Homo sapiens: one gene and its partners. The protein of the gene in region 3 purifies or fractionates together with the protein of the main gene of each other region. This does not show direct contact. Each region holds a gene or a part of one and is shown on either strand. Other genes may lie near its edges.

The links.
Region 1: the proteins of SLX4 (region 3) and RPRD2 purify together in Homo sapiens (affinity purification with mass spectrometry, with the first as the bait; 2 studies listed by BioGRID). This does not show direct contact.
Region 2: the proteins of SLX4 (region 3) and PGAM5 purify together in Homo sapiens (affinity purification with mass spectrometry; 4 studies listed by BioGRID and IntAct, with this or other methods). This does not show direct contact.
Region 4: the proteins of SLX4 (region 3) and TOPBP1 purify together in Homo sapiens (affinity purification with mass spectrometry; 3 studies listed by BioGRID, with this or other methods). This does not show direct contact.

The regions. Positions count from the first base shown.
Region 1 is NC_000001.11:150,458,133-150,465,155, forward strand, and holds part of RPRD2 (regulation of nuclear pre-mRNA domain-containing protein 2), read left to right. Parts: intron 1-1,927; coding exon 1,928-2,185; intron 2,186-6,394; coding exon 6,395-6,595; intron 6,596-7,023.
Region 2 is NC_000012.12:132,706,228-132,713,859, reverse strand, and holds the start of PGAM5 (serine/threonine-protein phosphatase PGAM5, mitochondrial), read right to left. Parts: upstream 3,019-7,632; 5' UTR 2,984-3,018; coding exon 2,793-2,983; intron 1-2,792. UniProt on the Homo sapiens protein: Mitochondrial serine/threonine phosphatase that dephosphorylates various substrates and thus plays a role in different biological processes including cellular senescence or mitophagy. Modulates cellular senescence by regulating mitochondrial dynamics.
Region 3 is NC_000016.10:3,608,588-3,616,193, forward strand, and holds the start of SLX4 (structure-specific endonuclease subunit SLX4), read right to left. Parts: upstream 3,020-7,606; 5' UTR 2,973-3,019; exon of another isoform or gene 2,542-2,972; intron 980-2,541; 5' UTR 378-979; coding exon 1-377. UniProt on the Homo sapiens protein: Regulatory subunit that interacts with and increases the activity of different structure-specific endonucleases.
Region 4 is NC_000003.12:133,651,922-133,658,944, forward strand, and holds part of TOPBP1 (DNA topoisomerase 2-binding protein 1), read right to left. Parts: intron 6,021-7,023; coding exon 5,877-6,020; intron 4,937-5,876; coding exon 4,755-4,936; intron 3,566-4,754; coding exon 3,369-3,565; intron 1,604-3,368; coding exon 1,424-1,603; intron 709-1,423; coding exon 542-708; intron 1-541. UniProt on the Homo sapiens protein: Scaffold protein that acts as a key protein-protein adapter in DNA replication and DNA repair. Composed of multiple BRCT domains, which specifically recognize and bind phosphorylated proteins, bringing proteins together into functional combinations.

The DNA of each region.
Region 1 (7,023 bases), on a different chromosome or scaffold from region 3:
TCCAACTTGAGATGTGCTATAAGTATAAAATACACATTGAGGCCAGGTGCAGTGGCTCATGCCTGTAATCTCAGCACTTTGTGAGGCTGAGGCGGGCAGATTGCTTGAGCCCAGGACTTTGAGACCAGCCTGGGCAACATAGTGAAACCCTGTCTCTACAAAAAATATAAAAATTAGTCAGCGTGGTGGCATGCGTCTGTAGCCCCAGCTGCTGGAAAGGCTGAGGCAGGAGAATCACTTGAGCCTGGGAGGCGGAGGTTGCAGTGAGCCAAGACCATGTCACTGCACTCCAGCCTAGATGACAGAGGGAGACCCTCTCTCCAAAAAAAAAAAACCAGACACATTGGAGTCCAGAAACTAGGCCGAGCATGGTGGCAGAAACTCTCCCAAAGAGTTAAAATATCTCATTAATAATTTTTTATTTATAACACTGAAATGAAAATATTTGGGATATATTAGGATGAATAAAATAGAATTTTTAAATTACATGTGTCTGTTTCTTTTTATTTGTTTGTTTTTGAGAGAAAAAGAGAGTTTCCCTCTGTCGCCCAGGCTGGAGTGCAGTTGCGCAATCTTGGCTCACTGCATCCTCCATCTCCTGCGTTCAAACAATTCTCCTGCCTCAGCCTCCCGAGTAGCTAGGATTGATTGTAGGTGCATACCACCACACCCGGCTATTTTTTGTATGTTTATTAGAGACGGAGTTTCACCATGTTGGGCAGGCTGGTCTCGAACTCCTGACCTCAAGTGATCCGCCTGCCTCGGCCTCTCAAAGTGCTGGGAGGTGGGCTTGAGCCACCATGCCCGGCCCTGATTCTTTTTTTGTTAATTTGGCTGCTAGAAAATTTAAACTTACATATGTGGCATATGTGGCTTAAATTGTATTCATGTTAAATAGCACTGTTTTGGGATGAGGGGTCACTTATACTGGAATTCCTTATTCTCTGTCACTTTTGACCATCAAGAATTCCAAAGTCAGTTTGTTAATCACACTTTCAGAAATAACCTGATTTGGTGAATTGTTTCTCTTATATCCCCAGCCTTCATAAATCTTATTAGATAGTTTGACTCCTGTTGAATTCAATGCACTATTGATACAGCCCTTAAAGCATTAAAAATAATTATTCAAGGTGATTGAGAGTTAAAACATTGTAGTTTCAAATTAGCTAGTGCCTGATTGCACCCCCCAATAGGGCAATTTCAGGAAGCCAGAGGAAAATACAATGAACACTATAGAGGTTCTGTTTCTAAGAACAGAAGTTCTTAGAAAGTTCTCAGGTTAATGGAAAAGAAAAACACAGGACAATTTATGAAAAATATCATTTCCAAAAGACAGAACACAAATGTGTACCAAATAATAACATGCTTCTTGAATTGTACAGATTTAATACACAAATACTAAGAAAATGCAAAGGAATCATTGAAAAGTAAGATACAAGATAAATTCTGGAAATTGCTTGCTTTTTTTTTTTTTTTTGAGACGGGAGTCTCGCTTTGTTGCCCAGGCTGGAATGCAGTGGCACAATCTCGGCTCATTGCAACCTCTGCCTCCTGGGTTCAAGCGATTCTCGTGTCTCAGCCTCTGTAGTAGCTGGGATTATAGACGCCTGCCACCACACCTAGCTAATTTTTTGTATTTTTTGTGGAGGCAGGATTTCACCATGTTGACCAGGCTGGTCTCGAAATCCTGACCTCACATGAGCCATTGTCCCCAGCTGGAAATTGCTTTTAAGCAGATATTAAAGGTGGGAATTATCATAAATTATGAAGAGTATGACTTTTTCAAAAAAGCATGAAGTGAGTCGTTGTTTTCTCTAAAGTAGTGCCTTTTCCCCCAAGTCCGGAAATATTAGGACATGTTATTTCATATAGGAAGCAAAGTCTGGAAAGTAGTAGGATGTAATATCTCTTTTCTTTGTTGAAACAGTCGAGGACAGGAAGGAAAAACCTGCAGAGAAGTCAGCTGTATCCACTTCTGTACCTACAAAGCCAACAGAAAATATCTCAAAGGCCTCTTCATGTACCCCAGTGCCTGTGACCATGACAGCAACTCCACCTCTTCCAAAGCCTGTGAATACTTCTCTTTCCCCTTCCCCAGCATTGGCTTTGCCAAACCTGGCTAATGTGGATCTGGCAAAGATCAGTTCCATCCTTAGCAGTTTAACATCAGTCATGAAAAATACTGGTAAGTAAGCCCAGTAAGGAGGATAAAAAGTTAATTTCCATCTTTTTAAATTGAATCATTAATCTGTTTTTGGGGGGGTTGTTGTTGTTGTTGTTGTTGTTGTTTAGACAGAGTTTCGCTCTGTCTCCCAGGCAGGAGTGCAGTGGTGCAATCTTGGCTCACTGCAACCTCTGCCTCCCGGGTTCAAGTGTTCTGCTGCTTCAGCCTCCCAAGTAGCTGGGATTACAGGCACCTGCTACCACGCCCGGCTAATTTTTGTATTTTTAGTAGAGATGGGGTTTCACCATGTTGGCCAGGCTGGTCTTGAACTTCTGACCTCAGGTGATACACCCACCTCGGCCTCCCAAAGTGCTGGGATTATAGGCGTGAGTCACCGTGCCCAGTCTGTTGTTGATTTTTTTTAATTAATGATTTTTTTTTTTTTTTCTGAGACGGAGTTTCAGTCATGTTACCTAGGCTGGAGTGCAATGGTGCAAACTTCACTCACTGCAGCCTCCATCTCCCAGGTTCAAGCAATTCTGCCTTAGCCTCCCAAATAGCTGGGACTACAGGCATGTGCCACCATGCCCAGCTAATTTTGTATTTTTGGTAGAGACGGGGTTTCACCATGTTGGTCAGGCTGGTCTCAAACTCCTGACCTCAGGTGATCCACCCATCTTGGCCTCCCAAAGTGCTGGGATTACAGGCGTGAGCCAGCGCACCCAGCTAAATTAATTGTTAAATTAAAAAATAATCCAATAATCGGTCATTATAGAAAAATTAGAAAATAAGCAAAGAGAATGAAATAAATATCTAGGCCAGGCGTGGTGGCTCATGCCTGTAATCCCAGCACTTTGGGAGGCTGAGATGGTAGATTGCCTGAGGCCAGGAGTTCGAGACCAGCCTTGGCAATATAGTGAGACCCTATCTCTAAATAAAAAATTTTAAATGAAAAAAATTTTTTAATAAATATCTATAATCCTGTTACCCCAAAGGAAACCACTTGTGTTTACCCTTAAAAGTATATGTGTATATGAATGTTTTGGAGAATTAAATATGTATAACAATTTTTAAAAAAGTAAGTGTATTGCATATACTGTTTCAAAACTAGCTATTTAAAAGTTAATTACATATCTTGAATGTTTTTATGAATCATTAAATATTTCTCTACATCATTTTTAATAGCTGCATAGCATGTGGTAACTTATCTAATCCTTTATTATTAGGCACTTAGTATGTTTCCAGTTTTTTACTGTTATGAAGAATACTATAGGGCCAGGTGTGGTGGCTCACGCCACCACTTTGGGAGGTGGAGGCAGGTTGATCACTTGAGGCCAGGAGTTGGAGACAAACCTGGACAACATGGCGAAACCCCATCTCTACTTAAAAAAACAAAAATTATGGCCGAGCGTGGTGGCTCACACCTGTAATCCCAGCACTTTGGGAGGCCGAGGCGGGTGGATCACGAGGTCAAGAGATCGAGACCATCCTGGCCAACATGGTAAAACCCCGTCTCTACTAAAAATACAAAAAAATAGCCAGGCATGGTGGCGGGCGCCTGTAGTCCCAGCTGCTCGGGAGGCTAAGGCAGGAGAATGGCCTGAACCCAGGAGGCGGAGCTTGCAGTGAGCCAGGATCGCGCCACTGCACAGCCTGGGCGACAGAGCAATACTCCGTCTCAAAAAAAAACAAAAAACAAAAATTAGGCCAGGTTTGGTGGCTCACGCCTGTATTTCCAGCACTTTGGGAGGCCAAGGCAGGCGGATCACCTGAAGTCAGGAGTTCAAGACCAGCCTGGCCAACTTGGTGAAACCCTGTCTACTAAAAATACAAAAATTAGCTGGGCATGGTGGCATGCATCTGTAGTCCCAGCTACTTGGGAGGCTGAGGCAGGACAATCACTTGAACCTGGGAGGCGGGGGTTGCAGTGAGCCAAGATCACGCCACTGCACTTCAGCCTGGGCAACAGAGCAAGACTCCGTCTCAAAAAAAGAAAAAATTCGCCAGCTGTGGTGGCACGTACCTGTAATCCCAGCTACTCATAAGGCTGAGGCATAAGTATCATTTGAACCCAGAAGGCAGAGGTTGCAGTGATCCAGGATCAAGCCACTGCACTCCAGCCTGGTTGACAGAGCGAGACTCTTGTCTCAAAAAAAAACAAAAAACAAAAAAAAAACCTGTAAATTATAAAAATTTTATGAATAACCCTTTGCAAGGGTTAAGTATATAAAACCTTTTTAATGGAATTTTATTTTTATTTATTTATTTATTTATTTTGAGACAGTCTCACTCTGTCCCCCAGGCTGCTGGAGTGCAGTGGCGCGATCTCAGCTCACTGCAAGCTCCGCCTCCCAGGTCACGCCATTCTCCTGCCTCAGCCTCCTGAGTAGCTGGGACTACAGGTGCCTGCCACCACGCCCAGCTAATTTTTTGTATTTTTGGTAGAGACGGGCTTTTACCATGTTAGCCAGGATGGTCTCGATCTCCTGACCTCGTGATCTGCTCGCGTTGGCCTCCCAAAGTGCTGGGATTACAGGCGTGAGCCACCGCATCCGGCCATTTATTTATTTATTTTGAGACAAGGTCCCACTCCATCACCCAGGCTGGAGTGCAGGGGTGCAGTCATGGCTCACTGTAACCTCAAACTTCTGGGTTCAAGTGATCCTCCCACCTGAGCCTTTGAGTGGCTGAGATCACACGTGTGCACCACCACATCTGGCTAAGTTTTGTGGGTTTTTTGGTAGAGACAGTGTCTTACTATGTTGCCCAGGCTGATCTTGAACTCCTGGGCTCAAGTGTTCCTCCCATCTTGGCCTCCTAAAATGTTGGGATTACAATCATGAGCCACTGCACCCAGCCCGAAATTTTTTAAATAAATTTTGCCAGGCAAGGTGGGATACCGTGTAGTCCCAGCTACTCGGGAGGCAAATGCAGGAGGATCACTTGAAGCCAGGAATTCCAGGACGTGTAGTTCACTGTGATCACGCCTGTGAATGTCCACTGCACTCCAGCCTGAGCAACCCAGTGAGACCATATCTCAAAAACTAAATAAAAATAAAGTATTTTAATATATAACTAAATTGATATCCAAAAAAGTGCTATTTTATATGACTAATATATGAAAGCTTCTGTTGTTCCTTACCTTCTCCAGTTACTTGCCTTGTGCAGTCTACAAATCCAGCCTTAAAAAGTTGTTTAATTTCCATTTCTTCTATGAAAGATGTTAAAAATTTTTTTCCTTTGCTTCTCACTTAAGTTTCTTTGTGAAATATCTGTTCATATTTATCTTTTTTAAAATAACAAATGTTTTTCTCTTTATATATTTTATTTCCTGTGTTAAAGATCAACCCAGTGTTTTTAAATGTAAAAATATAAAGGAAATTTCTTAAATAATCTCATTTTAAAAGCTATTTCAAAAGCATATAACTTACCAGTCACATGAAATTATGCAGTGGCTGAGTTATACAACTGCAGTGGCTCTCAGCATCCAGTCAGCCAGCAGTATTTATTGAGCGCCTACAGGGCTCTGAACTGTAGGTGCCATTTGGTGGAGAAAAAAGATTGTCCAGGTGTGGTGGTACATGCCTGTAATTCCCAGCACTTTGAAAAGCCAAGGTGGGAGGATCACTGGAGGTCAAGAGTTGAAGACCACCCTGGGCAATGTAGCAAGACCCTGTCTCTATTTTTTAAAAATAAATAAGAAATATTGGGGCTCTCAAAACTATGAAAATCACTTAATACTTGTTTTTTTCAAGACAGAGTCTCACTGTGTCTCAACTCTTGTCTCACTGCAACCTCCACCTCCTGGGTTCAAATGATTCTCCTGCCTCAGCCTCCCGAGTAGCTGGGATTACAGGCGCCTGCCACCATACCCGGCTAATTTTTTATTTTTGGTAGGGACAGGGTTTCCCCATGTTGGTCAGGCTGGTCTCGAACTCCTGACCTCAGGTGATCCGCCTGCCTCGGCCTCCCAAAGTGCTGGGATTACAGGTGTGAGCCACCTCGCCCGGCCAATACTTGTTTGTTTTAATGGTGTTCCAAGTAAAAGGAGATAATCTTTTCAGGGTTTTTTTTTTTTTTTTTGTACATGTCATGTTATGATGGACCATTTGTGGATCAACCACAGAAGAATTCCTGTTAAATATATCAAACTCATTGAAGTGAGGGGAAGTATCGGAAATTGAAGTCATTTTGAATTGCATTTTCTTGAGTTCATCTTTCTGCCACCAGGGGTCAGTCCTGCATCAAGACCTTCTCCAGGAACGCCCACCAGCCCCAGCAACCTCACCAGTGGCCTGAAAACACCTGCACCTGCCACGACAACATCTCACAACCCTCTGGCAAATATCCTCTCCAAGGTGGAGATCACCCCAGAGAGCATTCTGTCTGCACTTTCCAAAACCCAGACACAGTCAGCCCCTGCACTGCAAGGTAACTGACATATGCCAGAGGGACTCGAATTGTGAATGTTTGTCTCTGGCTTAAATTAATCCTGGATTCCATTTCTGATGAATCCAGAGCCATAAAATGTATAACACAGTTAATTCATTATTCTTTTTATTTATTTATTTATTTATTTATTTAAAATTTTTGAGATGGAGTCTCACTCTGTTGCCTAGTTGGTGTGCAGTGGAGTGCTCTCGGCTCACTACAACCTCTGCCTCCTGGTTCAAGTGATTCTTCTGCCTCAGCCTCCCTAGCAGCTGGGATTACAGGCCCACACCACCATGTCTGGCTAATTTTTGTATTTTTAGTAGAGATGGGGTTTCTCCATGTTGGCCAGGCTGGTCTCAAACTCCTGGCCTCCCAAAGTGCTGGGATTATAGGCATGAGCCACCATGCCTGGTGGTCATTATCCT
Region 2 (7,632 bases), on a different chromosome or scaffold from region 3:
CCGTCTCTACAAAAACATTAAAAAATTAGCCGGGCAAGGTGGTCCACAGCTGTAGTCCCGGCTACTCAGGAGGCTGAGGTGGGAGAATTGCTTGAGCCTAGGAGGGAGCCATGATCTTGCCACTGCACTGCACTGCACTCCAGCCTGGGCAACAGAGCGAGACCCTGTCTCAACAGCAACAAAAAAAGTTCAACGCGGCAGAGCTGGGAATAGCAAAAGTCGAACCTGCTGGTATTTACTCGCTGAGACAGTGGCGGAAAAGGAAGCTGTGGAAGGGCACGGTGGTGACTCAAGGGCTCCGTTTGGGCCACGCCGACCTGGGGGCCTGTCATAAACCAGGCCAAGACTCAAATTGGCAGGTATGGGGGAGTCAGGCTGAGCCAGAGAAAATATTTGGGAGCTATAGGCACAGAGACAGGAAGCCGTAAACTGCATGAGACCTCCAGGAAGAAGCTGGAGATTTCACCAGATGAGGCTCTGGAACTTTCAAGTGTGGACAGGTGAGACTCAAGAAGAAACATGCTGTCTTCTAGCACCTTCCTGTAGTTGCTCATGCCTTCTGTCTGTATAAGTCTTTCCCAACCCACAAGGCCCAATTCACTTCTCCCCAGACATGACAAGCAAATACAGAACACCTGCTTAAAAGAGAAAGGCTGGGCTCAGCTCCCGGTTCTACTTCAAGTTCTTTTTTTTCTTTTTTGAGACAGAGTTTCACTCTATCACCCAGGCTGGAGTGCAGTGGCACGATCTGGGCTCACTGCAGCCTCCACCTCCTGGGCTCAAGTGATTGTCCTGCCTCAGCCTCCCAAGTAGCTAGGACTACAGGTGCATGCCACCATGCCTGGCTAATTTTTTTGTATTTTTAGTAAATACAGAGTGTCACCGTGTTGGTCAGGCTGGTCTCGAACTCCTGACCTCAAGTGATCCGCCCACCTCAGCCTCTCAAAATGCTGGGATTACAGGTGTGAGCCACCGCACCCAGCCTACTTCAAGTTCTTTAACGGCAGAGTAAATCTGTTTCCTTAAAAAGACCTAAGAAATTCAGAATATTGATTCAGAATTTCTGATTTTTCAGAATTCTGATTTTTAAAAAAGAATATAACAGGCTGGGCATGGTGGCTCATGCCTGTAATCCCAGCACTTTGGGAGGCCGAGGTGGGAGGATCACCTAAGGTTGGGAGTTCAAGACCAGCCTGACCGACATGGAGAAACCCCGTCTCTACTAAAAATACAAAATTAGCTGGGCATAATGGCGCGTGCCTGTAATCCCAGCTACTCGGGAGGCTGAGGCAGGAGAATTGCTTGAACCCGGGAGGCGGAGGTTGCAGTGAGCCGAGATTGCACCATTGCACTCCAGCCTGGGCAACAAGAGCGAAACTCCGTCTCAAGGAAAAAGAAAAAAGAAAAGAAGGAAAAAGAATGTAACTCCAGTCTAATCATGAGAAAACCTTCAGAGAAGTCTCAATTGAGGGACCTTCTACCAAACCCCTGACCAGGACGCCTCAAACACTCATGATCATCAAAACAAGTCTGAGAAATTGTCACAGCCAAAACATGCCTACGGAGGCATGAAGACTACTTGTCATGTGGGACCCTAGAACAGAACAGCAGGTAAAAGCTGAGGAAATCTCAATGAAACATGAACCTTAGTTAACAGTAATGTATTATAAACTAATATAATAACTATAATTAATCTATATTATTTTGGCTCATTAATTTTGATATATACACCATGCTTAGTGTATGATGCTAATAATAGAGGAAATAAGGTTAACAAAAGATAAAAATCTAATATAAAGTACCTAACGCAACCACAGTAGTATAATTCTGTGCCCCCTTTCTCAAAGTACTGAGTATAATGAGGAGTTAGGACTGGGAAAACCATCCTTGCCGCTAGAGCAGTCCTGGCCGACAGAAACAGAATGCCAGCAACATGTGAAATTATACATTTTCTAATAGCAACATTAAAAAGAAACAGGTGAATTTCGATCATACTTTTAATTCAATATGCTAAAAATACTATTTCAACACATAACTAATGTTAAAAACCTGCACTACTTTTTTTTTTTTTCCTTTGAGACAGGCTCTGTTGCTCAGGCTGGAGTGAAGTGGCGGGATCTCGGCTCACACTGTGCAGCCTGGGACCCCTGGACTCAAGGGATCCTCCTACCTCAGCCTCCCGAGTAGCTGGGACCACAGGCGCGCGCCACCTCGCTCGGCCAATTTTTTTTGTATTTTTTGTAGAGATGGGGGTCTCACTATGTTGCCCAGGCTGGTTTCAAATTTCTCAAGCGATCCTCCGGCCTCAGCCTCCCAAACGCTGGGATTACAGGCCTGAGCTACCGCACCCGGCCCTGCTTGCGTTAAGTTTAAATTGACGTAAACTAAGCATTCCCTTCAGGAATCACACGAGCCATATTTCAAACGCTCAATAACCGCACGCAGCTCGCGGGCGCGCTCCTGCAAACGCCCCTGAAGGAGGCCCGGCTTCCACCTCAGCCTCGCCCCGGCCCGCGCTCCGGCGATGGCACCCAGGGCGGACTCGCAGGGGCGGGGAGAAGGGCGAGGACGCGACGGAGCTCGGCCACAGAAGCCGGCGGGAAGGGTCAGCCGCCCCCGGAACCCTCCGCGCAGAGCGGCCCCGGAAAGCGGCTCCTCCGCTGGGGAAAGCAGACGGCGACCCCAGATCCCGACCCGATCGCAACCTTAAACCTGGTCCCGATCTCGATCCCAACGGTAACACCTGCCCTGACCCCCATCCCGACCCCGGCCCCAAACAGCCCCGCGCGCACCTGTCCCAGTTGGGGTCCCAGACACCGGGGCCCGGCCGCGCGCCCCCCGCCCAGGCCGGCGGCTCAGCCGGGCGTGGCTCCGCGTCCCCGCCTGCGCGCGGCTTCCCTACCGCCACGGCCGAGAAGAGCACGGCGGCCGAGCCCCCGGCCAGCCCGCAGGCCGCCAGCTGCAGCGCCTGCCGGAACGCCATGCCGCTTGCTCCCGCGCCGGCCCGCGCAGGCGCCCACGGCCCCGACGGCGCTCCGCGAGGAACACGCTTCCCCCGGCTGCCGCTTCCGGGCGGCGGGGGCGGAAGTCCCGCCTCCTGGGGCGCGGCAGGACGCGGGGCAGCCTTGCGCGAAGGGGCGTTTTCGTGGAGCCACCTGCCGCGCCACGCTCCAGTCCCGTCACTTGTGCTCGCGAGCGCCGGTGCGCGCAGGTGCGGGCGGGGTTGTGGGGACGCCGGGAGGGCGGCGCGGTACTTTCCAGAAGGTTCCGCACCGGAAGCGCCTGCCGAGGCCGGAGGCTGGGTGCAGGGGCGGAGACGCGGAGAACTTGGGATCCTGGTTTAAGGGAGCTGGGAAGCTGCCGCAGGTTTGTTTAAACGATATTTTTTTGGTGGCGGAACACGAAGTAAAGTTTTCCGTCGGCGCAGTTCCTGCGTGTGCTGTTCAAGCGGCCTGAAGTGCGTTCAGGTTCGGCCGGGCTGTCCCTCCTCCTGGTCCCGACCCCTCAAACCCCGGGCCGAACACCGCCCTCTCCTGCGGGACAGTCTTTCTATGGCCGGCGCGTTTCGCCTAGCAGGGTCCTCAGAGGGACCGCGTTAGAGCCTGGGTTTCCTTCCAGGGGGACCAGCGCTCCCTGGGTGGACCGACCCCACCGCTTACCCATTGCTGGACGCCTGCGTGCACCGACCCCACCGCTTACCCATTGCTGGACGCTTGCCCTGTTGCCATCTCCTCGCTAGCGTGAACAGTGCTGCGTGCAGATCTCTCTTTCATTGATTGTTTTGCGTCTGTACCCAGAAGTGGGATTGCTGGACCATCTCTGCCCATTTTAAAATTGGGAAATGACATGATCTGATTTAAGCTATTTAAAAATCACTTGGGCCTGGGCTCGGTGGCTCACGCGTGTAATCACAACACTTTGGGAAGCCGAGACAGGCGGATCACCTGAGGTCAGAAGTTTGAGACCAGCCTGGCCAACATGGTGAAACCCGGTCTCTACTAAAAATACAAAAATTAGCCGGGCACGGTGGCTCCAGCCTGTAATACCAGCTACTCAGGAGGCTGAGGCAGGAGAGTTGCTTGAACCCAGGAAGCGGAGGTTGCAGTGAGCTGAGATTGCCTCACTGCACTCCAGCCTGGGCAACAGAGTGAAACAATGTCTCAAAAAAATAAAAATAAAAAAACTGAATGGTTCCACAGAAATACTGAGACTTCTGCTTAAACAGGCTTTCTTGAACCTGTACGCTTCCAGTTGGGTCTGCTGCTTCCAGGTCATTTACTAAAAATGATAGGAAGATTTAAAAAATAAAAATAAAAGGAAGGCCGGGCGTGGTGGCTCACGCCTGTAATCCCAGCACTTTGGGAGGCCTAGGTGAGCGGATCACGAGGTCAGGAGCTCGAGACCATCCTGGCTAACACGGTGAAAACCCGTCTCTACTAATAATACAAAAAAAAAAAAAAAAAATAGGGCATGGTGGCGGGTGCTTGTAGTCCCAGCTACTAGGGAGGCTGAGGCAGGAGAATGCCGTGAACCCGGGAGGCGGAGCTTGCAGTGAGCCGAGATCGCGCCACTGCACTCCAGACTGGGCGACAGAGCGAGACTCTGTCTCAAAAAAATAAAGGAAAATTGGGCCGGGCGCAGTGCCTCACGCCTGTAATCCCAGCACTTTGGGAGGCTGAGGTGGGCGGATCACGAGGTTAGGAGATCAAGACCAGCCTGACCAACATGGTGAAACCCCGTCTTTACTGAAATACAAAAAAGCCTGGCGTGGTGGTGCGCGCCTGTAGTCCCTGCTACTCGAGAGCCTAAGGCCGGATAATCGCTTGAACCTGGGAGGCAGAGGTTGCAGTGAGCCAGGATGGTGCCACTGCACTCCAGCCTGGGTGACAGAGACTCTGTCTCAAAAAAAAGAAAATCAGCCAGGCTCAGTGGCTCATGCCTGTAATCCCAGCACTTTGGGAGGCCGAGGCGGGCAGATCACCTGAGATCAGGAGTTTGAGACCAGCCTGGCCAACATGGTGAAACCCCATCTCTACTAAAAATACAAAAATTAGCTGGTACATACCTGTAATCCCAGCTACCCAGGAGGCTGAGGCAGGAGAATCGCTGGAATCCAGGAGGCAGAAGCTGCAGTGAGCTGAGATCACACTACTGCACTCCAGCCTGGGTGACAGAGCAAGACTCCATCTCAAAAAATAAAATAAAAAACAAGGGAAAATCCACAAGGACATAGTTGAATCCATAAGAAGAAATGACAGCAGATAAATCAGTTAACAAAAGTTCAAGAGCTGGAGATCAGATCTTTATCGACCTGAGAATATGGAACACCAGTGCCTATGTGGAAGGAAACCAGGAAGCAAGTTCATTTAATCCAGTGAGTCTGGAAGAGTCTGGGAGTTGGCAGCATTAGCCTCCTGTCTGAGAGCTGTGGGGCTGAAAGCAGGAGCATTTAGAGGAAAAGGTTGCCTTCCACATTTCGTTTCTCCCCCACATGTTCAGGGGAATAGCTCACTTTCATCACCGTGGAGCACTAGAGAAAGGCCATTCCAGGGGACTTGAACAGGAGGGTTCTGGATTTCAGGACACCAAGCATAGCTCAGATTGGGGATGCAGTAATAAAGATGGGATTATACAGAGTTCACATAAGGAAGAGTAGGACCTCTAACCCCTTTCCTCCAGATAGCCACAAGAATGTTGGCCACTAGGCTCATTCCCTGCTCAGCTACCACCACCATCCTTCCCCCAATGCCCTGACAAGAACTAAAGGATTCCTCTGTGTGGAAACTGACCAGCCCAGGAGAAAATATTTTTTTTTAATGTATTTTTTACGCCGGGCGCAGTGGCTCATGCTCGATAATCCCAGCACTTTGAGAGGCCGAGACAGGCGGATGGATCACTTGAGGTCAGGAGTTCGAGACCAGCCTGGCCAACATGGTGAAACCCCATCTCTACTAAAAATACAAAAAATTAGCAGGGCATAGTGGCACGCGCTGGTAATCCCAGCTACTCAGGAGGCTGAGCCAGGAGAATCACTTGGAAACGGGAGGCTGCAGTGAGCTGAGATCATGCCACCGCACTCCAGCCTGGGCAACAGAGTGAGACTCTGTCTCAAAAAAAAAAAAAAAAAAAAAGCCTGTTTTCTGATGACTGTTAAGTGTGTGAAACTAAAAACTCCTGGTCTCTGCTCTCCCCTGTGTGCCTGACAGCACTCCGTAAAGGTGTGTTCAGCGAACTGACCGGATGCGGGCTGTGGTAAGCCATATACATGATGTGAAATCTTCTCCAGCAAATTCTCTTGACCTTGCCGTGACACTCTGATGCCCTATGATGAGGTGGTGAAGATGGTGGCTCAAGACCTGGCTGACTGCCTCTGAATCAGGACTGTCTCTTGCTAGCTGAGGCATCTTGCATCCCCCACATGTGGAGTAGAGAAAACAATGGCACCTCCCTCAGGGCTGCTGCAGCTCTCAGAAGAGTTCCGGCACAAAGCAGCCCTAAGCGGTGTCAGTACTGTCATCTCTGGATTCTAATCTAGAATCTGTTCTGAGATCCAGGTTCTTAATCCTCCATCATGGCAGGGGGTGGGACTCACTGGGAAGTGGCAAGTTAGAGGGATAGTCAGAATTGTCACCTTCTGCATCAATTGCAGGAGCATCTGTTACTTTTGCAAATGCCCTAAACTTCCTTTGGGAACGACCCCACCTTAAATATTCTGAACTGAAAGAGCAGTTCTTTGAAAACCCAAGGCAAGCAGGACTTGAGCAGGCATTAGTGCCGCTGTCTTCACCGCCACATCCTTCACGGCATCCAGGAGCTGGAAACAGTCTAGCCACTGACGGACAGACGGACAGGCAAAATGCAGTCCACGCACACGGCAATGTTCAGCCTTTTAAGTTTTTAATTTTTATTTTATTATTTCTTAGTAGAGAGGGGGTTTCATCATGTTGGCCAGGCTGGTTTCAAACTCCTGACCTCAAGTAATCCGCCTGCCTCGGCCTCAAAAAGTGCTAGGATTACAGGCGTGAGCCGCTGCACCCAGCCCTATTTTTATTTTTTATTTTATTTATTTATTTTTTTGAGACAGAGTCTCACTCTGTTGCCCAGGCTGGGGTGCAGTGGCACGATCTTGGCTCACTGCAACCTCTGCCTTCCCAGTTCAAGTGATTTTCCTGCCTCAGCCTCCCAAGTAGCTGGGATTACAGGCATGCATCACCACACCCAGCTAATTTTTTTTTTTTTTTTTAAGACGGAGTCTTTCTCTGTCGCCAGGCTGGAATGCAGTGGAGCGATCTTGGCTCACTGCAACCTCTGCCTCCCAGGTTCAAGCGGTTCTCCTGCCTCAGCCTCCCGAGTAGCTGTGATTACAGGCACGTGCCACCACGCCCTGCTAATTTTTTTTTTTTTTTTTTTGAGACGGAGTCTCACTCTGTTGCCCAGCCTGGAGTGCAGTGGCACGATCTCGGCTCACTGCAAGCTCTGCCTCCCAGGTTCACGCCATTCTACCGCCTCAGCCTCCCAAGTAGCTGGGACTACAGGCGCCCGCCACCACGCCCGGCTAATTTTTTGTATTTTTTTTAGTAGAGACAGGGTTTCACCATGTTAGCCAGGATGGTCTCGATCTCCTGACCTCGT
Region 3 (7,606 bases):
GTTACCCTTTGCTTTTTAGTCCTAGGGGCCTGGCTGCCAGACGGAGGTTTCTTCTCTGCAGGGCCTTGAAGGGTTTTGGTCTTGGTAGCAGTTTGTTTGGTCCTTTTCAATTTGCTTCTTATCTGAGTGCCGTTTGAGGCAGCCTTTTGTGTCTTCCTTTCTCCTGACACTTCCTTGATTCCATGTTTTTTCACCCTTTGGAAAAAGCTAGCGCAGAGTTCTTTAAAGTCCTCATCAGACTCATCCATCATCTGACCAGTTTTAAGGCTTTCAGGCTGGTCTTCAGAGGAGCGAGGGTCAATCCCAGGACAGGCAGACAGATGAGAAAGTGAACCCAAGTAGAAGCCTAGCTGAGCCTCATTCACACTCAGTTTCATTAGGGTTCTTCTCTACTTCTCCATTAGATACTTGGAGAGTTTGCACAATTGAACAAAAAGTACTGTTTTCCTCTCTATAATGATTGAAGTATCTTTGTTCAAATTGGGCCTGTGGTTAAACATGTTTAAAGCTTCCCTCTGTTAAAGTCCACAACTGGGCCGGGCGCGGTGGCTCACACTTGTAATCCCAGCTCTTTTGGAGGACGAGGCGGGGGGTGGATCACCTGAGGTCAGAAGTTCGAGACCAGCCTGGCCAATATGGTGAAACCTCGTTTCAACTGAAAATACAAAAAATTGGCCAGGCGTGGTAGCAGATGCCTGTAATCCCAGCTACTCGGGAGGCAGAGGCAAGAGAATCGCTTGAACCTGGGAGGCGGAGATTGCAGTGAGCCGAGATCGTGCCACTGCACTCTAACCTGGGCAACAAGAGCAAAACTCTGTCTCAAAAAATAATAATAATAAATAAATAAAGTTCACAACTGAAAGAGTGTTTTGTTGTCCAATAGATGCCTCTGAGATCGAATACATATGAACCTGGTGCTCAGATAATTCTCCAAGATCTCCATGATGATGAAACATATATGGTTCACTTAATTACACATCTGTGGAAAACCAAAAGCATGTAAGTGTAATCAGACATTGTCATTTTATGCCAGTTCTTCCAGGGAGGGACAAGGGCATGTGGGGTGAGGGAAAAGTCTTCGGAGTAACAATACTGTCAAATACTCAGTCCAGCCTGGTTAACATGGTCTAACCGTCCTATCAGACATCACAACAAAAGGACCTAGAAACCTGTCAAAGCATGTTGTTCTTCCACAGGTATTAAAATATGTGCATCTTGGGAGAGTGTTTTCTTAACTGAAATTTAGGGAGCAAACCCCATAAAAGGCAGTCACCACAGAAACAGGATGATCCCCAAATCTAGGAAAACTATCTCCTACACTGATCTAAGACCCCTGGCTGTTAAAGAGGCTCTTTCTGTAAATACTGCAACATAAGAGACAGAAAGAGACATTATATTCTCATGAACACTCAGGAGAGAAAAGGTCACTTTTACTTATCTTCTCAACCCAGCAAGGCTCTCCAAACCTGGATGACTGGAATGTCGCCTGTGTGCAAAGGCTGGGCCTCGTGAGCATGGTTGTTTACTTTGGCACACAGCTAAGTGGGGTTCAAAAATCAAAACTGAATGACCCAATGGCAGAAAGTTATTCCTTTCAAATACAATAATGCAATCTCCACTGTCCAAGGAATCTAATTAATCATTTTGTTTTCCAGAGCTGAAAATACTCCTACCTAGAATCTACTTTGTATGGCTGGCGCATTCTCTTCTGTGTCTTCCCCTTAGAGAAGTGTCCTCTAATCCTTTATGGACCGTCTCCATCCCCGTTAATCCCTATCATCGCCCACTGTTTTCACAATGGCATCTGTCATAGGTTATCATCATATGAAACAGGTAATATCTATCGAATGCTTACTGTGTGCCAAGCACTGTTCCAATTGCTTTCCAAGTCAAACTCGTTTAATCCTTACAAGAAGCCTATATGGTGGAATCTCTTGTCATCCTGTCTTTACGGCAAGGAAACACGCGCAAGCAGAATGAGGAACTGGCCTAAAGCCAGTTCAGGAACAGCTTTCACAGTGGCAGGGCTGGGATCAAACCCAGGAAGTGTGGTTCGAAACTATCCGCTCTTGTGTTTTTATTCATCGGCTTATTATCTGTCCCCCATTAAGCTCAACACTTCAGGAGGGTAGAGATCCATCTATTACTTTGCAACCTCTTTGGCTGATCTGGTGCCTGACTTGAAATAAGTGCTCCACAACTACTTGTTGAATTCATGAATTGCAAAGAGTTCGGTATAATGGGAGTAGAGAGAAAGGTGTAGGAGAAAACGCTGCGGGGAGAGGAAAGGATTGGCTCACAAGGGCCTGGAAGGTCAGGCTAGGCAAAGTGAATTTTATCCTGTTGGATGCGGGGAGCGGCTGGAACAAATTCCACCTCCACAACTGTGTTGATCTCCGCATCTCTGTTGATATGAACCTCACAACAGTCTATCTCCTCCTATAGGTGCCCAGTCAAGATTTACTGAATGACATAACGGATCCTGCAAGCCTGCAGGTTTCCAGAGGGAAGGGGACTTGTGCCTCCTTGCTTCGTACCTACCGCAGCCCACGGCTCACAGCAGGCGAGGGATGAATGAATGGATCGGTAAGGGGCGGACCCTCCCGCTTCCCCCAACCCGGCGACCTACGGAAAGGGGCTGAGGGGTTCCCCGTCTGGGAAAAGGGCTGCCAAAGACTCTAACGGCTCTAAAGTCAGACGGAGAACCCCGATCCCCGGACTGGCCCGGACGGAGACCACCGTGGGGATCCGGATCCGCCACCCTCCTCCCTCCAGGCGGGCCCCGGCCCCTCTCCACCCGAGTGCGGCTCCTGCCTCTCCGTCGGGGCTGCGGGCCTGCCGAGGCCACGGAGCCAGCGAGGGAGACGGGCGAGAAAGGCTCTTCTCCCTTAGGAAAGAGAGAACGGCCCGAAATGACAGGACCTCCGCCTCCCGGGTGCCGACTCCCAGCCCCACAGCCCGGCTCCTCCTACCTCCGGCGCCGCCGCGGCACCTTCTTAACGGAGACTCGCGCGCCTGCGCATGCGCCGCCCGCGCCCCCGCGGAGCATTGCCTGCGCGCAGGCGCAGAGCGGGCGCGCGCGGTGGTGCGGCAGCCTCGCTTCCGGTCTTCCTCTGCGGCGCCGGGCGCGGGCCCGCGGCGGCCAGCGCTTCCGGTCGGCAGGAGGCGGGGCGAGGCGGAAGCGGCGCTTGCTTCAGGTGGAGTCTGTTAGTTTTTGAGAAAGAGTTAGGGCGAGTTTAAGGCACTGTGGCAGCTGTGAGATAAAGTCTGGTTCCTCCCCAGCTGGCTCAGGAAATGTTCGCGGATACAACGGCGGCCCCCTCTGGGCATACCTGCCTGTGGAGCGGAGAGTGGACGGTGTGAGGGGGACCGGGAGAGGCACCAAATCTGGCCTGGGGGCCCGAGAAGCTTCCTCTCAGGTGGGGTGGCGTGAGAGTCGAGGCCTGGAGGTCGGGGAGGGTTAGCTACGTGAAGAGGGGATTCTGCCGCGCTTCAGGTGCCTGGAGGGGATGCCCGAGCTCTTCCGCAGGGCTAGGGTGAAGCCAGCCAGGGCCTGGGGGAAAGGTAGCAGAGGTTTGCCATGGCTTGGTATTTGAGGGACTTTACACATCGTATTAAGGGTTTGAGCTTCAACTTGGGGTCGTCGGGAGCCATTGAAGGTTTTTTGTTGTTTGTTTTTTGAGACGGGGTTTTGCTCTTGTTGCCCAGGCTGGGGTGCAGTGGCGCGATCTCGGCTCACTGCAACCTCTGTCTCCCGGGTTCGAGCGGTTCTTGTGCCTCACCTTCCCAAGTAGCTGGGATTACAGGCGCCAGTCACCACGCCCAGCTAATTTTTGTGTTTTTAGTAGAGACTAGGTTTCACTCTGTTGCCCAGGCTGGTCTCCAACTCCTGACCTCAGGTGATCCGCCCGCCTCGGCCTCCCAAAGTGGTGGGATTACAGGCGTGAGCCACCGCTCACGGCTTTTTTTTTTTTTTTTTTTAAGTAGAGACGGGCGGTGGGGGCGGGGGGGGGAGTCTCACTATGTTGCCCAGGCTGGTCTCGAGCCCTGGCCGCAAGAGATCCTCCCGCCTCGGCCTCCCAAAGCGCTGAGATTACAGGCGTGAGCCACCACGCCCGGCGTAAGATTTTGTTTTTAAAGGCCTAATTACAGTGAGAACAGATGAGGCAAGGACACCCATTAGGAGGCTATTACATAATCTAGATGAAAAGTGAGAGCGGCCCGAATTAGGAGGTGGAGCGAAAAGAATGGAGAAATATGGAGCATAGTCAAGACGCAGTTGTTAACGATTTGCCGGTTTCTGGCCTTAACATCTGAGAGTAGTGTGCCTCCAGTCACTGAAATAATGAACACAGGAGAGGTGTAAAGGAATCAGTTTGCAGGGCAGACAATATGTTTTTTAAAAGATACAGTATCATAAAATGCACACTAGAAGTGTACATTCAGTGGTTTCCAGTACGTTCACAGGATTTGCAGCCATCGTCGCTAATTCCAGAACGTTTTAAAACCCCAAATCGAACCTGCCGTACCCATTCGTAGTCACTCCGCAATTCCCCCGACCCCATCCCCTGGCAATCACTTATCGGCTTTCTGTCTCTGTGGTTTTGCGTATTCAGTACATTTTATGTAAATGGGATCATGTGATACTTGGCTTTTTCTGCTGGGCTTTTATTAAGCATGTTTTCAAGATTTCATCCATGTAGATGAATCAGTACTGCATGCCTTTTCATGGCTGCATAATCACGTGTTTGGATGGACCATGTTTTGTTTATCCATGTATCAGGTGATGGGCATATGGATGTTTTTACTTTTTGGCTGTTAGAAATAATGCTGCTATGAACATTCGTGTTCATAACACAAGTTTTTGTGTTCTAGGAGTGGAATTACTGGGTAAGACTACATTTGATTCTGAATGTTGAGCTTCAAAACCTTCCAAGAGGTTTTCCTTGATGAAGGATTTAGGAGGTGTTTACTTGCTCTCTGGCTTGGAAATCTAAGTTAGTTTGTAATATGGTTTCCAACTGGATAAAGAAGACAGAACAAGAATGATAAGCAGCCCAGAGGCAAGGGTAGGGCAGGGTGTCTTGGGACTTGAATTTATAGAGGAGACTGAGTGACGACATGGAGAGGCCAGTGCTGTTGAAATAATTTCTCTTTCCTTCCTTCCCTTCCTTGCTTCGTTTTCGACGGAGTTTGGCTCTTGTTGCCCAGGCTGGAGCGCAGTGGTGTGTGCAACCTCCACTTCCCTGGTTCAAGCGATTCTCCTGCCTCAGCCTCCGGAGTAGCTGGGATTACAGGCGCCCGCAACCGCGCCTGGCTAATTTTTTTTTTTTTTTTTTTTTTTGGACAAAATCTCGCTCTGTTGCCCAGGCTGGAATGCAGTGGTGTGATCTCGGCTCACTGCAAGCTCTGCTTCCCGGGTTCACGCCATTCTCCTGCCGCAGTCTCCCGAATACCTGGGACTACAGGCGCCCGCCACCACACCTGGCTAATTTTTTGTATTTTTAGTAGAGACGGGGTTTCACCATATTAGCCAGGATGGTCTCGATTTCCTGACCTCGTGATCTGCCCGCCTTGGCCTCCCAGAGTGCTGGGATTACAGGTGTGAGCCACCGCGCCCGGCGTAATTTTTTGTATTTCTAGTAGAGACGGGGTTTCACCATGTTGGCCAGGCTGGTCTCAAACTCCTGACATCAGGCGGGCGATCTTCCTGCCTGGACCTCCCAAAGGGCTGGGATTACTGGTGTGAGCCACCGCGCCTGGCCTGAAATAATTTACTTACATTTCTCAAGAAAAGGAGGCGTGCCACCACGTTCAGAGCCACAAGGGAGACATCAGCTTTTGGTTAGGAGGAAGAAATAGGAACAAGGAGAAAGTCTAGGCCAGAACCTTTATGGGGTTCCTCAGAAATAGCAAGTCAGGGCGGAGTAAACATTTTAGGATTGGATAATTTAAATAATTCCATCACGCTTTGCCTTTGGGTGGTCTCTAGTTGCTTGGTACCTGGCCATGGATGATTTAGGGCAGGAGAAATACTGGCTTGGTGTGTGAGAGTTAGATAAAGGGGGGAGGCTGACTTGCCTGTGAGAGGCATGCTCCCAAGTAAGTTGTTTACTGTCTTGAGGAATTAGACCTGGGAGAGGCAGTCTCCCTGCCAGCAAGATTTATTAAGATTTCAAAATATCATAGGATACAGAAAATTTTTTTAAACATCTAATAAACATGGACATGGCTGGGTTATGAAGGATAATTGTAATGGTAGAAATTACTGTTTTCCAGTCAGACTGAAAATGAAGTGCCTGTTTCCTATTTAGGATTTAAATCTCTTAGAGTCCTGGTGAAGAAAGTCTTTGCTACCTCTCTCCCCCAACCCCAAATCTGGCTATATTATTTATTTACATAAAATAAATTAGTTGAAGTGTGGTTTAGAAAAGAGAGTTTTCTTAAACCTGAGATTCTCAACTGAATCACCTGTGGAATTTTTTTTTTTTAATTGGAAAGGCTGGGACACTACTCTTAGGCCTACTGAATAAATCTTTCAACCTGTGTCTTTTGAAAGTTTCACAGATGATTCTGATGGTCTCAAGATTGAGAAGCACTGCATTTAACCAGCACCAACTGAACAAACACTGTAGGCTAAGTATAAGAGAGATGGCAAGAGCTGGGTCAGGGTGGTGCATGGGATTTCCAATTATACATAATTCCTCCCTTCAATGAACAAAGCCATCCATAACTGGGGCACCTGCTTCTTTGGGCTAAAGGTGAACAATGGCAGCCACCTTGTCCTGGACCCTATTGTGACTGTTACTCCAGCAGAAGCCCTGGGGTTCATGCTGTTAGTTAGAAGTCACCCAGTATGACTAAGTTGAGGGGCAGTGTTCAGAAACAGTGTTACTAGATGGATGTTATTTCAGTAGGAACAGTATTGTGTGTTCCCTGTCAGCATTTGAGGCGGAAACCCACTGCACTGTCAGAACAACCAGGGAGATGAAAGAAGATGTCAGATACTAAAAGGTGCAGACAGTCCTTGTGTTTGGTAAACCTTACAGGGTTTATCTGAAAGAGAAAATGGATGCAGAAGTACATGAAAAAACTGTGTTATTCCAAATAGATGTGCTGTTTTCCCAGTTCATAGGAGTCGGTAATTTTTGGGTTCAGGGCAAAAAGGCAAAGGTTGAAGATGCTGTGATGATCACGTCCTTACCCTCCTGGAATATTTCCTTTTTGAAAGCTTCTGGCATCTTCCACTGAGTTCATGTTTTAAACAGTTGGGAGGATGAATTGAAGGGCCCTTATCCCAGGTCTGTGGTTTGATTATAAATGGTAAAGCCATAACCTGTCCACCTCCCTCTCCTTTATCTTGACAGGGGTTGGGGAGACAGCAGATTGAACAAGGAAAGAATTGTCTCCTGAGTTCTTTGATCATGTTAACTTTTATTTACTGTTGTATAGTCACATTTTCTAGACTGCTAAAATTGGTGAAATCAGGACAGGAAATAACTGTTTTTACGTGTATAAGTATACAAAAGTTATTCGAGATGAGTTACACTGCATTTCTTTCAGTGTGCTGCCTGCCACTGCTGCCTTTGTGTGATTTTGCTCTATA
Region 4 (7,023 bases), on a different chromosome or scaffold from region 3:
GATAGTTTAAAGTCCAAACCTGGGCAACATAGTGAGACCTTGTCTCTACAAAAAAATTTTAAAAATTAGCCAGGTGTAGTGGCACATGCCTGTAGTTCTAACTGCTCGGGAGACTGAGGGGTGGCTGATGCCCAGGAGTTCAAGGTTACAGGAAGTTATGATTGTGCCACTGCATCCCAGCCTGGGCAACAGAGTGAGACCCTAACTCAAAAAAATTAAAAAAAAAAAATCCAATAAGTTGTTCAGAAACTAAGTGCTCTCGAAATATAGCAGATGAAAAGATTAATGTAGTTAGGAGGGTTCAGAGAAGAGTTAAAACCTGAAATGAACTTTTAAAAGATAACAGAGGAAGATACCTTGCAGGCAGAGGGACTCTCGCAGCCAAAGGATGGACATGGTCTAGTAAGTGCATCTACTTAGCTAGAGTGGAGGGTTTACATAGATAGTAAGGAGCAAGCCCAACTCTGAAGGGTCTTCAAAGTCAGGCTAGGAAATGCTAATGTATATCATCTACTGCATGTATTATATAATAAAGACGTACCCGACAACCATCTAATAAATCTTCAGGTGCTTGAAATGCACTGACATCCAGATTTTCTAGATTTTCAAGTGTAGGCTCCAGTTTGCTGTTAAGTGAATTACATATTGATTCACTTACGCAACTTGCATTTATGTTGGAAATATTGCTGACATCTGAAAGAGTACGACCTACATATTTTGAAAACGTATAAATTTATGGGAGATAAAATAATCATGATTACATATTGTCTATGGATTAACTTTTCTTACAAATATAGGGCAATAAACAACTTCCAAAGTAAGATTCAGGGGTGTTTACTGAAATCTTAGTGGCAAAGTATAAAAAGGGAAAATGAAATTAATTAAGCCTCCTATCTTATTTAAATGAAAATAGATTTAACACATTTTCTTAATAGTGTCTTGTTTCCCATAAAAATCTGAAGTTGCTGACTTTAAGGTCCAAGAAGCTTACATTTGAAAAAATATTTTAAACATTTTGCCAACACGACACCTACAAAATAGAAATGGTTTTAATTTTTATACAAATACAGATGATCTATAACTGCAGCAAAACTGTAAATTAAGGAAAGATTAATATATGCATGTAATGTTTAAAAGATTAATACTTTTATCTTAAGCCCCCAGCTACCATTGTTCTTAATTTCTTTGATCATCTTTTGCATTACAACAGAGTATAAAAGACAGCATTCATTCATTCTAAAAGAAAATTACGAACAGTTCAGTGCTAACTTTTTATACAATTTGACTATTATACAATTATGCCTAGAAGCACAGCAAACAAGAAAAAGAAATTCCCTATCTCAGTGATCCTATTAACATACTGATTATTACATAGAAATATGACTGTCTTCAGAATAATTATTTTAATCTCAATGAGACTCACTATCAATTGTGTTGATCTGGCTGGTAGGAGTTGAAGAATTGGGCATAGTCTTTGCTTCTGGTCTAGGTTCTGTCTTGTATATGGATTCATCCTGACAAAAACCTTTCTCAATACTGTCAAAAAACCACTGTGTGGTCACACAGTGTACATTCCATCTCTTGGCACACTCATACTTCTGACCTGTGGCGTTCATTAAGAAAGAAATAGAGAAAATAGGAGAAACCAAGAAATGAAAACCATTACAATCTATCTTTGCAGAAATATTCAAATTATAACAGGTTAATATTTTTTTTTTTTTTTTGAGATGGAGTCTCACTCTGTTGCCCAGGCTGGAGTACAGTGGTGAGATCTTGGCTCACTGCAACCTCCACCTCCCTCCTGATCAAGCGATTCTCCTGCCTCAGCCTCCTGAATAGCTAGGATTACAGACGTGTGCCACCATGTCTGGCTAATTTTTTTGTATTTTTAGTAGACACGGGGTTTCACCATGTTGGCTAGGCTGGTCTCAAACTCCTGACCTCAGGTGATTCGCCTGCCTTGGCCTCCCAAAATGCTGGGATTACAAGCGTGAGCAACCGCGCCCGGCTATAACAGGTTATTTCAAAAACCTATCAACAAAATTAAAGTTACCAGTACTTACTCTTAAACAGTATGCTACACAGTTTATTACAAAGTAGTATTTTAGCTTATTGCCTAATTATATTTTCTATGTGTAGTATAAATACATATGCCATGTGAGAGGTTTTATCTTTTATACAAACTGCAGGAAGACAGAAGCAACTGTGGGGTAACTTAATTAATATTGGACTTGGGTTTGCATATAGGCTCCATCACTTAATTTCTTTAAACCAGCTTGTACAATGTGAAAATTGTAAATTTGTGCTATATAATAAATCCCAACTTTGAACAGACTATTCCAATGTCAACAGGCTTCTACTTAAAGTCCAGGATAGATAAGCCAAAAGATAAATTATATTGAAAATATGTATCTTTTATTACCTTAAAAATCTTCAACACAATGTATTTTGAAGCAGTATCACAGAGGAATTGAGGTCAATATGTCACATGAAAGGTTTTTTGGCATTCTTGAGAGAATCAACAATGAACTGTCTTCAGATTCAGAAAAAGAACAGCAGTATCAACTCTACTCACAGTGATCCTATCACAATCAGCCATACTCAAAGTTCTGACTTAAGGACAATTACCATTTAATCGTAATTTCTTCTCAATCTAGATAGCTTAGTAAAACACAGTATACATATAAAGGGCAATAATAAAAACATTAACAAAACTCATCTTTTATCAATTTGTGTATATTTTAAGAGTGCTGATAAAAAATTATCCAGAATAATGTTATGTAACACCAAACTTAATAGCAATTTTAAAGAATTTTTCTTGTTCGTAATGTCTTTTTCATTTTTTACTGCCTCATGTGCCGCAAGGTGTGTCTTCCAGTTAAAACTTTGCAAGATGTTAGAGAAAACATCTTTGCAAGATGTTAGAGAAAACAGTATCAAACTAGATTAATGACATGTCAGAAGTAAAAGCTGTTCTGTAAAGATTTTAAAATATTAAATATTAGTGGCTGGGCACGGTGGCTCATGCCTGTAATCCCAGGACTTTGGGAGGTTGAGGTGGGAAGATCAATTGAGGTCAGTTAGAGACCAGTCTGGCCAACATGGTGAAAGCCCGTCTCTACTAAAAATAAAAAGTTATTCAGGCGTGGTGGCAGGTGCCTGTAATCCCGCTACTCGGGAAGCTGAGTTGGGAGAATCGCTTGATCAAGGGAGGCAGAGGTTGCAGTGAGCTGAGATTGTGCCACTGCCCTCCAGCCTGGGCAATAGAGCAAGACTCTGTCTCAAAATAAATAAATAAATAAATAAAAATAAAATATTAAATACTAGAGAAAATGTTTCATTTGTCCCTTTGTGAAACACAGTTTTACCTTTTGGTTCTTGCACAATGAGGTGTGTACATTCATTCATTTTCAATTGTCCCATGTATTGACCTCCATGCTTAACTGTGAGTTGCTGAACTTCTTTCCTGTCTAAGCCACATAAGCCAGTCACACAGATTATGCAACCAAGAAAAATAGGACACTTGAAATCTTCCATGTTTATATCAGTATATCTAGTTATTTTTCTGTGGGAATCAAATGGTTAAAAAAGAACATATTAAATTTACCAGAAGAATAATGAAAAACAACACAAATATCACTATTGCTTCCCTCATTTTTTAGGATTTATAATCTTTTTTTTACAAAGGAGAACCACCAAAACAGAATTACACTAATTGTTCACCTAGTTCAATAACATGTCTCTAAAACAAAGTAATTGTTTCAGATACAGTCTCTCAAAACCATTTTAAGGGAAAAATATATATTTCCTTAACTCTAGCCCTTGCTGGTCATAGTATATTTTCCAAAATGATAAGTCTGAATCTCTACTTAAAAACCCAAAGGTAATTTGGTTGCCTATTAGATAAATGAACTTTTTAATCTTTCCATTATTCTATACAAGTAAAAGCAATGATTTTTGGCAAAATACCAACAAAAATATCATTATTCTGTTGCCATGCTAGGGAGGTGTGCTGATGAAGTAATCACATTGGGAATGAGAGTTGCTGACATGGAGACATATTTGGGATATGCTGGATGGTGTTGAAAACAAGCCCAGAAAAGTGCCGATATAATTCGTATGCCAATACAATTCTGTGGTGTTTGGTCTTGTGGTTGTTTATCTAGTTGCAGGGGAAACTGAAGTGTGCCCCTTGAAATAGGCTCTAAGCTCCATGAGGGAAGTGACTATCTTGTTTTGCTTACTACATATACCTAATGCCTACCTCAAGTCAGATACGTAAAATGGGCTCAATTAGCATTTATTAAATGATCACATCTCAGCTGATGACTTGCATATGTTTATATTCAACCTTACATATGCCATCTTTTGGAAGGAATGCAACTGCCAAAATGACTAATTTATTATCTATCTTAACATATGGGAATGGTGTTGAAGGATAATGCAACATAAAAGCTACAGAATTGCCAAACTCGTTTTCTCAATTATTTCAGAAATATTTACAGCTGAGAACTTTATCACCAAAGCATTTCCTACTCTGTAGCTAATGCTAAACCCTTGGCCCATTCTATGCCTGTCAACTTATATCTTGGTAATAAGAGCTTGTAGATTCTGCTCTTCCGTTTTCGCTGGAGAAAAGAGTAATGACACTATTTTTTTCCCTGAATAGTAAGTCCAAAGAGTATATCACATGCCAAAAATGATTGAATGCATCATTTTTTCAAATCTAGAAAATATAAAAATGTCTTTCTTACTTCTCTTGTGACTTCTCCCAAAGTGTTTTTATCCAAGAGGGAAGCAAAATAGGTTTCTTCAGGTTTGCAGCAACTAAATATTTTTTGCTACCAACTTCTCCTGCAATAAGGTGAGTTACTGATACATTAAGGTCTCTGTATACTCGTCCGCCCATCATTTGTACATATTTATGAACTTCTTCCTGCAGCCCCAAAAGAGAACACATTAATGCTGAAGCAAACAATATTGCTTCCACTTTTATACACTATCTCATAAATACATTTTGCTGTTGACAGTTTGAATACATAAGTGTTACATAACATTATAAAGTTAAATAATTAACCAAATTATTTTTTGGGAGATAAGTATGAATTATATTTTTAAAATATTATTTTCCTATATTTATCCCTTTCAACTCCATGAATGTATTAAACTATTATACAAAGGATGTATAAATCTTAATCTTTGCTTCTATATAAATATACATGTGTATTTTTAACAACATAAATTATATCTATATAATATATAAATATTTATTTTTAGCCAGGCTTGGTGGTGCATGCCTGTAATTCCAGCTACTCGGGAGGCTGAGGCATGAAGATTACTTGAGCCCAGGAAATCAAGGTTGCAGTGAGTTGTGATTGTGCCACTGCACTCCAGCGTGGGTGACAGTAAGACCCTGTCCCAAATATATATATGTATTTCTATAGCTCTCTCTTAGAATGCTTTTTTTTTTTTTTTTCCAAAACGAAATCTTGCTCTGTCACCCAGGCTGCAGTGCAGTGGCGTGATGTTGGCTCACTGCAACCTCCACCTCCCTGATTCAAACGATTTAGAATCCTTTTTTTTAAAGACTGTCCACCTATAGTGGAAAAATGTAAGTGATTAAAAAATGAGTGTCCTTTTAAATTAAAACAAAAAATTTCAATTAGCCAGTTTTCAACAAAACAAATTCTACTATATTCAATTTACTTAAAAAATGTACATGTATACATATATACACACTGTGGTTGTATACTGAACTTTGTTAAAAGTCACGAACAATAAGCGGAAAGTCTTTTAAGCTATCTTCTATGCAGTGAAAAATTAAGAATAAGAGATAGATATATAAATTGATCAATCATCATGAGATCAATATCTACCCTTTTTTCTTTTTCCAGACTTGTACAAGATATGGTTACATCAGACATAACCATATTATAAACTGGATGTTCGGCTCTTGGGACACATCGCTGGTGGTGCATACAAAATATGACTACTTGAGGACCAACAATTCTGCAGCCAAGCTACAAAAAAGAGAAAAGTTTAAATGAGTTAAGAAGGAAAAGACCACCAGTCTTACAAAATTACATTTTGTAACATTCACCAATTCTTTACCAAAGTTGATGACCACTGTAGAGAAATCAGCAAATCATTACAAGAAAAAAATAAAGATGACTATATAATTTCTCAGAGATACTATACATTAAACACTCACACACAAAAGCAAATCAAACAATGCAAGCTATCAAAAGAAATAAACTTCAGGCCAGGCACAGTGGCTCACGCCTGTAATGCCAGCACTTCAGAGGAGGCCGAGCGGGGGTGGATCACCTGAGGTCAGGAGTTCGAGACCAGCCTGGCCAACATGGTGAAACCCCGTCTCTACTAAAAATACAAAAATTAGTCGGGTGCAGTGGCGGGCACCTGCAGTCCCAGTCTCTAGGGAGGCTGAGGCAAGAGAATTGCTTGAACCCAGGAGGCGGAGGTTGCAGTGAGCTGAGATCACGTCACTGCACTCCAGCCTGGGCGACAGAGTGAGACCCTATAACAAAAGAAAAAAAAAAAGAAAAGAAAAGAAATAAACTTCAAAAGCCCCTTTCACTGAAAACTGCCTTACTGCTTACATCTATAAGCCCAATATTTTGGGAGGCTGAGGTGGGAGGATCACTTGAGTGCAGGAGTTCAAGACCAGCCCAGCCTGGCCAACATCGAGAAACCCTTTCTCTACTAAAAATAAAAAAATCAGCCGGGTGTGTATATACATCTGTAATCCCAGCTACTCAGGAGGCTAAGGCACAAGAATCACTTGAACCAAGGAAGCAGAAGTTGCAGTGGGCTGAGCTTGTGCCACTGCACTAAAGCCTGGGCAACAGAACAAGACTCTGTCTCCAAAAAACAAAAACAAAAACAAACAAACAAACAAAAAAAGCCTACTGTAACATAATTAGCCTTTCAATCCTGGTCTTGCCAAACCAAAAGAATTCCAATGTACTCATAAGTTGCATAGTACTTTATAATCCGCAAAGA